Homo sapiens: one gene and its partner. The protein of the gene in region 1 interacts with the protein of each later gene in a pairwise test. Each region holds a gene or a part of one and is shown on either strand. Other genes may lie near its edges. The genes, in order: TBC1D22A and PEX1.

Region 1 (3,821 bases):
AGATACTGGTTTGTAGTTTTCTTTCTTTGTGATATCTTTGCTTGATTTTGGTATCACGGTAGTACTTGCCTCATAGAATGAGTTGGGAAATATTACCTCCTTTTCTAGGTTTTGGAAGGATTTATGAAGAATTGGTATTAATTCTTCTTTATCTATTTGGTAGAATTTACCAGTGAATCCCTCTGGGCTTGGACTTTTCTTTGTGCGTAGTGTTTTGATTACTAATTTAGTCTCTTTATTTTTATTTTTTATTTTTTTGAGACAGGATCTTGCTCTGTTGCCCACACTTAAGCGCAGTAGTGCCGTCATAGGTCACTGTAACCTCAAATTCCTGGGCTCAAGTGATCCTCCCACGTCAGCCTTCTGAGTAGCTGGGACTACAGGTGTGTGCCACCATGCCCACTAGTTTTTTGGTTTTTAATAGATGAGGTCTTGCTTTGTTGGCCAGGCTGGTCTTGAACTCCTGGGGTTCAAGTGATCCTCCCACCTTGGCTTCCCAAAGTGCTTGATTACAAACGTGAGCCAGTGTGCCCGGCCTCTAATTCAGCCTCTTTCCATGTTATGTATCTAGTCATATTTCCTCCTGCTCCTTGAGTAAGTTTCAGTTGTGTGTATCTTTCTGGGAATTTGCGCATTGTATCTAATTAATTTTATTTGTTGGTGTACAGTTGTTCATAATATTCTCATAATTCTTTTTATTTCTGTAAGGTTGATAATAATGTCTTTTCCATCATGTCTGACTTTAGTAATTTAAGTCTTCTCTTTTTTCTTTTAGTCAGTCTAGCCAAAGGTTTGTCAATTTTATTCATCTACTCAGAGAACCATCTCTTGGTTTTGTTCATTTTCCTTATATTTAAGGAAACAACCAGACCAGCAGCTTTCTGTGTCTCCGTGGAGTCCTGCTATGGTTCTGGGAGTTGCCTCTCCTCTCTTTCTGTCGAGTGGCCCGGCCAGTGCATGTGGCGGCTCCTGCGTCTCCCCTTCACCAGAGTAGCTCTGCCTTTACCTGTTTGGCATTTCCATGTAACATTTCTTTTGAAAAGTTGGTTTACTGCTAAAGTACTGGCTTTCATACAGTGAAACCCCACAGAACAAAACTGGAGCTGCGTGCATTAACATTGATACATAAAGAACAATCTTGAGGGAACATCTAGTTGCAAAGGTACATATGTATGAAATGATAACAGTGTAAACTTTGCAAATGTGCAGAATAATACTGTATGTTGCCCAGAGATCCACGTCTCTTCCATAATAGTATAAACTCTTACATGGAAATGGAAAATGTCAAATACAGGTTGGTAGCCACCTCAGAGGAGGCAGGTAGAGAACCAGAATGGGGAGGGTTTCAACTCTATTATATGACAAAATGTTGGAATTTGGGGGAAGTGAATCTCTGGGTGGTGTCTGTGTGGTTATTCCTTATGTCCTATATGTCACTAAGCTGGCTGCAGCCTGCCAGGGGTAGGTGACTTTGGGCAGGCTACTTTTTTTTTTTTTTTTTTTTTTGGGACGGAGTCTTACTCTGTCACCCAGGTTGGAGTGCAGGGGCGTGATCTCGGCTCACTGCAAGCTCTGCCTCCCGGGTTCACACCATTCTCTTGCCTCAGCCTCCTAAGTAGCTGGGACTATAGGCGTCCGCCACCACGACCGGGTAATTTTTTGTATTTTTAGTAGAGACGGGGTTTCACTGTGTTAGCCAGGACGGTCTCGATCTCCAGACCTCGTGATCCACCCGCCTCGGCCTCCCAAAGTGCTGGGATTACAGGCGTGAGCCACCACGCCCGGCCAGGCAGGCTACTTTCTTAAGCTTTCTGTCCCTCAGTTTTTCCACCTTTTGAATGGGAAGAGTAATGATATCTGCCTTATTGGGTTGCAAAGATTAAAGGACTTAACACATTGAGAGTTTAAAATAATGCTCATCTCTGTTAGCTACTACTATTATTCTCTATGCTTTATTGCTTGCAGTATTGATAGTAAAAAAGAAACGGCATGTTGAGCAAATCTGGAGGCTGTTGAAAGTGGTTGGAGCTGAGCAGTGGCACGTGGCATGGTGGTCACAGGGCTGTTCCTTCACTTTTCTGTGTGTTTCATTCCTTTGGTAAAAGTATCCAGCACCAGCCCCACTGGGACCCGCCTGTGGTTCATGCCACAGGGCGTCTGTGTCCTCAGCACCCAGGACAGTGCCTGCCTCGTAGGTCCTTCCTGGTTGAGAGGAGGGATCAGCGCTTTGCTTTCAGGTCATCTTCAGTTTGAAACTGAAACTCACTCTGATGTATGCAGAAATAAATGTGATGTTTTCATCTGGATGCTGACTTTAGAATTTTCTTCTGAAATCATATATTTCTCCTTATTGGCTTTTTTTTGGGAAGGAGAAGTCATAACAAACCCTTCAAGGGGCCAGACTCTTTTGAATTCCTTTCTCTTCTCTGGGTTTCCAATCTTCCTCTGTGGAGTGAGGGGTGGGACTGGGCTCCTGGGCCTTTGAAGGAAGGCCGGGTGTGGGCTCATGTTTCTGCTTGCTGTGGTGACAGGCCCTTGGCTGCCACTTTGATGTCCCACTGATTCCACTGCTCCTGGCCTTCAGATCAGGTACGTGCTGTTTTGTTTGTCTCAACCTTCTGCCAGCCACTTTTCCTAGTTCTAAGTGTGATTTTTTTTCTTAAGGAATCTTCCTTCTTTTCTTTTTTTTTTTTTTTTGAGACAGAGTCTCGCTGTCGCCTAGGCTGGAGTGCAGTGGCGCAATCTCGGCTCACTACAAGCTCTGCCTCCTGGGTTCACGCCATTCTCCTGCCTCAGCTTCCCAAGTAGCTGGGATTACAGGCACGTGCCACCAAGCCCGGCTAATTTTTTGTATTTTTCATAGAGACGGGGTTTCACTGTGTTATCCAGGATGGTCTCGATCTCCTGACCTCGTGATCCGCCCGCCTCGGCCTCCCGATAAGACTGGGTTTCTGTGCTCCTGTGACATGCTCTTGTAGGAATCATCATAGAACAGTCAAAATGCCAGTTGAAGTTTTGCTTTTGTGAGTAAACTGTAAGGGCCGGAATAGTTTGGATGTGTTGTGCTTACCTTTGCCTCCCCAGTGCCCTGTCCGAGAGTCAGTATCAAAAAAATGTTTGTCAAGTTTTGCTGAAAAATCTTAGAATATAAAAGTGAACATTTGGTATAATTAATATGTTGTGCTGCAGGCATAGGAATGGGATACTGAATAGAAACTGAGTGGGAAACTGAAAAATGACCCAATGTAATATTTTAACGTTAAAGATGATGTTCTCAAAGCAGTGGGTGAAAGGAGAGGTTACTGAATAAATGACATTTGAACCCTTCTTTATTTTTTTTTAAAGTTTCCTACTAAACACTATATAGCAAAATAAAATAAATTCTAGGTGGATTGAAAACTTAAGGGTAGGAACGAGCCCTCTAGAAGGATTGAACTAGCACACGGCAATGTTTATGCACTCTCAGAAGGGTCAGGCCTTTCCAAGTGTCGTCCCCAAAGTGGAGTCACGAGGAAAGGACACAAGAGTGGCTCAGCCTCCCAGACCAAGGAAAACAGATTGGCCACCGCCATTGTCTTTCTGTGACTGCTCTAGCAAATCATCACAAACTTACTGGCTTACAGCAAACATGGTATCCTAGAGTTCTAGAATTTGCAAGTCTGATGTGGGTCTCGCTGGGCTAACACCAAGGTGTTGGCGGGGCTGGTTCCTTCTGGAAGCTCCAGGGGAGAGCGTTTTCCCTGCTCTCTCCAGCTCCAGGAAGCCGCCCACGTTCCTTGGCATACAGCCCCCTTTCTCCACGTACAGAGTCAGCCATGTTG
Region 2 (3,821 bases), on another chromosome or scaffold:
AATAATAGTTTATTTTCATGTGAATCCAGAAAAATGTATACGAAAACCTTTTTTCCTCTCATTTCTTATATGAATAGAATCAAGCTATAGAAGTGGTCTGGAGTCACCAGCCTGCATTCTTGAGCTGGGTGGAAGGCAGGCATTTTAGTGATCAAGGTGAAAATGTGGCTGAAATTAACAGACAAGTTGGTCAAAAACTTGGACTCTCAAATGGGGGACAGGTAAGCACATGTGATGGCAATAACTTTCTTCTAATATCACATAATATAGCAATAGAAATAAAATTAAAAGTTTAGATTTTTTGTTAAAGGAGGTGAGATGTCACCTAATTTGTATGCTATTATGTAACTAGTCTAGGATATTGAAGCTGACTATACTCTGTTTTTAGGTCATTATCTTGTAGTTTACCATACTCCCTACTTGCTTCTTATTCTACTATTTAACTCATTTTCCACATCCCCTAATTTTGGTTTCATGAAATTATTTTTCCTTCTGAATTACTAGGTTCTACTTACTATTATTAAACTTTATTTCTGACATATTTTATAACCTTCCATGGTCTCACTTGATTAAAAATAAAAAATTCAGCTGGGTGCGGTGGCTCACACCTATAATCCCAGCACTTTGGGAGGCCAAGGTGGGCGGATAATTTGAGGTCAGGAGTTGGAGACCAGCCTGCCCAACGTGGTGAAACCCCCCCTCTCTACTAAAAATTCAAAAATTAGCTGGGCATGGTGGCAGGTGCCTGTAATCCCAGCTACTCAGGAGGCTGAGGCAGGAGAATTGCTTGAACCTGGGAGGTGGAGGTTGCAGTGAGCTGAGATTGCACTGCTGCACTTCAGCTGGGTGACAAGAGCGAAACAATGTCTTGAAAAAAAATAAAAAATAAAAAATTCTACAACACAGGGTTATTATTTTTCCATTTTTGTTTTCCCTTATGAGTTTAATATGTTTAGATTATAAACCTGAAAGCTTGAATACCTATGTCTATCTTTTGTTTTCTTATGTTTATCAAGTTATTCCTTTAAACATTTTCTAAACTGTAAGAATAATGTGAGGCTGGGCTCAATGGCTTATGCCTGTAATCCCAGTGCTTTGGGAGGCCAAGGTGGGAGGACCACTTGAGGCCACGAGTTCAAGATTAGCCTGGCTAGGCAACATAGCAAGACCCTATCTCTATAAAAAAATTAAAAAAATTAGCTGGGCATGGTAGCAAATGCTTGTAGTCCCAGCTACTCAGCAGACTGAGGTAGGAGGAATGCTTGAGACCAGGAATTTGAGTGACCTATGATTATGCACTCCAGCCCGGGCAATAGCAAGACCCTATCTCTTAAAAGAAGAAGATGTAGTAATAATACATATTCATTATAACTATTTTACCATTGAAAGTAAAAAATGAGTTTTTACCTTTTCCCAGTCCCATCCTCAGAATGGGGATCTCAGTAGACCTTTAGGATTGGAAGAATGAGATCATTCATATTTTCTGCAATTATTACCCCACAAAATATTTCAGATACCTTTCCATGTATTACAAACAATGTGCATTTAACATGTCTCTCTCTTTCTCTCTCTCTCTGTGTGCGTCTTCATGATCCTCTGTTGCAGCCCTGCCAGTAAGACACTATCTCCTGAAGAATCACTGATAGGAACAGAAAGTGGACTGGCTAGGCCAGGAGTCCTTAGCTTCTTAGGGGGCAGGAGCTGCTTTGTGCTTTCTCAGAATCAGATATATATGTGGACTGAAACATTTAAAAACAGAATAGCCAAGGGTGCTATACGTTTAAAACTTATATAGATGGGGCTACATTGCTCTCTATTACTAATTTCCCATGACAATACACGAGAGTGCCATGTCTTTTTAACTTGTTTTGAGCACAGACTAATCTTGTTTATGCATGTTTTTTGATGAGAATAGGCTACTCATGAGAAATCTGTAAACCTAACACTAGTCCCTTGCATACTCTAAATTGTTGCTAGAATCTTAAAATTTTAGCACCAGACGGACCTTAGAAATCATTAACTTTGGTGCTTTGTTCTACAATACAAGGAGATGGAATATTTTACCCAGGATTGCTTAGCAGGTTACAGTTCTGCCCTCTGAGTACCCAGCACTTCCCTGTGGGCAACATCAACTTCCTGATTTTCAAGTCTTAATTAGTACTCTGAAGAATCCTACTTGTTTTTAACTCCCATTTGCTTTGAAGTGACTTTACCTGATTTTTTTAGATCCCTTATTGCAGCAATGCCACTAAGAAACTGAGTCTCTAGCTTCTTGGTGGGCAGGAGCTGCTTTGTGCTTGCTCAGAATCATCCTTTTCAGTAAGGGAGATATTGAAGAGAAATCTACTGAGGAGTCTGGGGGTGAGGCACTCAGGGAAATCCTGCTCCAGTCCACAAAAGCAGAGAGGAAGGGTTGGTTACCTAGAGTATTTAACATGCAGAGGCTTTGGATTTTACTCCTTTAATCCTTGGAAATGCCTATGGAAGGGGAAAGGAAGTAAGATGGTGACTCCAGCTTATAGACATACTAGTGTTACATATATTTAAACTATAATAGGAGGGTATTATTAGTTTTACTTAACTTTCAACTGTGAAGGATTATACTTCTCAATATTTGTCTCCAGTGTCTATTTCAGTGTATTTTTCACTTTTCTTGAAGCAGCATGTCTGTTGCAAAACTTCTAGAAATAATGAGAATATTTATATATTAGATCAAGCCATAACTTGATGATATAGTCATTTCTTCTTATATTTTTTACTTACATTTTTACATTTTAATGATTACTTTCATTTTTGAAAAACATGTCATGCTGAGATGTATTTTTCTTCATTCTGTAATTAGTTATGAAACAGTTTTTCCTAAAATGCTGAGTATATCAAGTCTTGGCTAAGAATAAGTAATAAATATTTGCCACATGAAAGACTACACATATAGCCAGGTGCAGTGGCTTGCACCTGTTTTCCCAGCTACCCAGGAGGCTGAGGCAGGAGGATTGCTTGAGCCCAGGGTTTCCAGGCTGCAGTGAACTATGATTGTACCACTCTACTCCAGAATGGGTGACAGAGCCAGGCCCCATCTCTCAAAACAGAAAAGAAAGATTACATAGACTACATATACACCCCCATCCAAAACATACACACACATCTACTTAACCTAAAATGGTAAGAAGATAACTTCTTATTTTCTAATATATGACACAGAAAAGTTTTTTTAAAGTAGTTTTAAATTTTTAATTTTTTCTAGGTATTTCTCAAGCCATGTTCCCATGTGGTATCTTGTCAACAAGTTGAGGTGGAACCCCTCTCAGCAGATGATTGGGAGATACTGGTAAAGAAAACCAAATAAGAACTATCTCATTTAAGGTTAAATTACTTCACAATATCAATGTCTTTAGCTTTCTCTAAGCTTTATTATATATTCTGAGTTGGTTTTGAATTATAAGAATGAATTGGGGCCAGGCACAGTAGCTCATGCCTATAGTCCCAGCACTTTGGGAGGCCAAGGCAGGTGGATTGCTTGAGTCCAGGAGTTCAAGACCAGGCTGGGCAACATGGTGAAACCCCGTATCTACTAAAAATACAAAAATTAGCCAGGCATGGTAGTGCATGCCATTAGTCCCAGTCACTTGGGAGGCTGAGGCAGGAGAATCGCTTGAGCCCGTAAAGTCAAGGCTGCAGTGAGTCAGGATCTTGCCATTGTACTCCAGTCTGGAAAACAGAGTGAGACCTTGTCTCAAATAAAAAAAGAATGAATTGATAGAGATCTAATGTACAACCTGACAACTATAGGTAATAAAATTGTATTGGGGATTCATGTTAAA

The links.
Region 2: the proteins of TBC1D22A (region 1) and PEX1 interact in binary tests that used the Homo sapiens proteins (3 or more experiments, as listed by UniProt).

The regions. Positions count from the first base shown.
Region 1 is NC_000022.11:46,786,449-46,790,269, forward strand, and holds part of TBC1D22A (TBC1 domain family member 22A), read left to right. Parts: intron 1-3,821. UniProt on the Homo sapiens protein: May act as a GTPase-activating protein for Rab family protein(s).
Region 2 is NC_000007.14:92,518,502-92,522,322, reverse strand, and holds part of PEX1 (peroxisomal ATPase PEX1), read left to right. Parts: intron 1-77; coding exon 78-221; intron 222-3,244; coding exon 3,245-3,328; exon of another isoform or gene 3,329-3,363; intron 3,364-3,821. UniProt on the Homo sapiens protein: Component of the PEX1-PEX6 AAA ATPase complex, a protein dislocase complex that mediates the ATP-dependent extraction of the PEX5 receptor from peroxisomal membranes, an essential step for PEX5 recycling.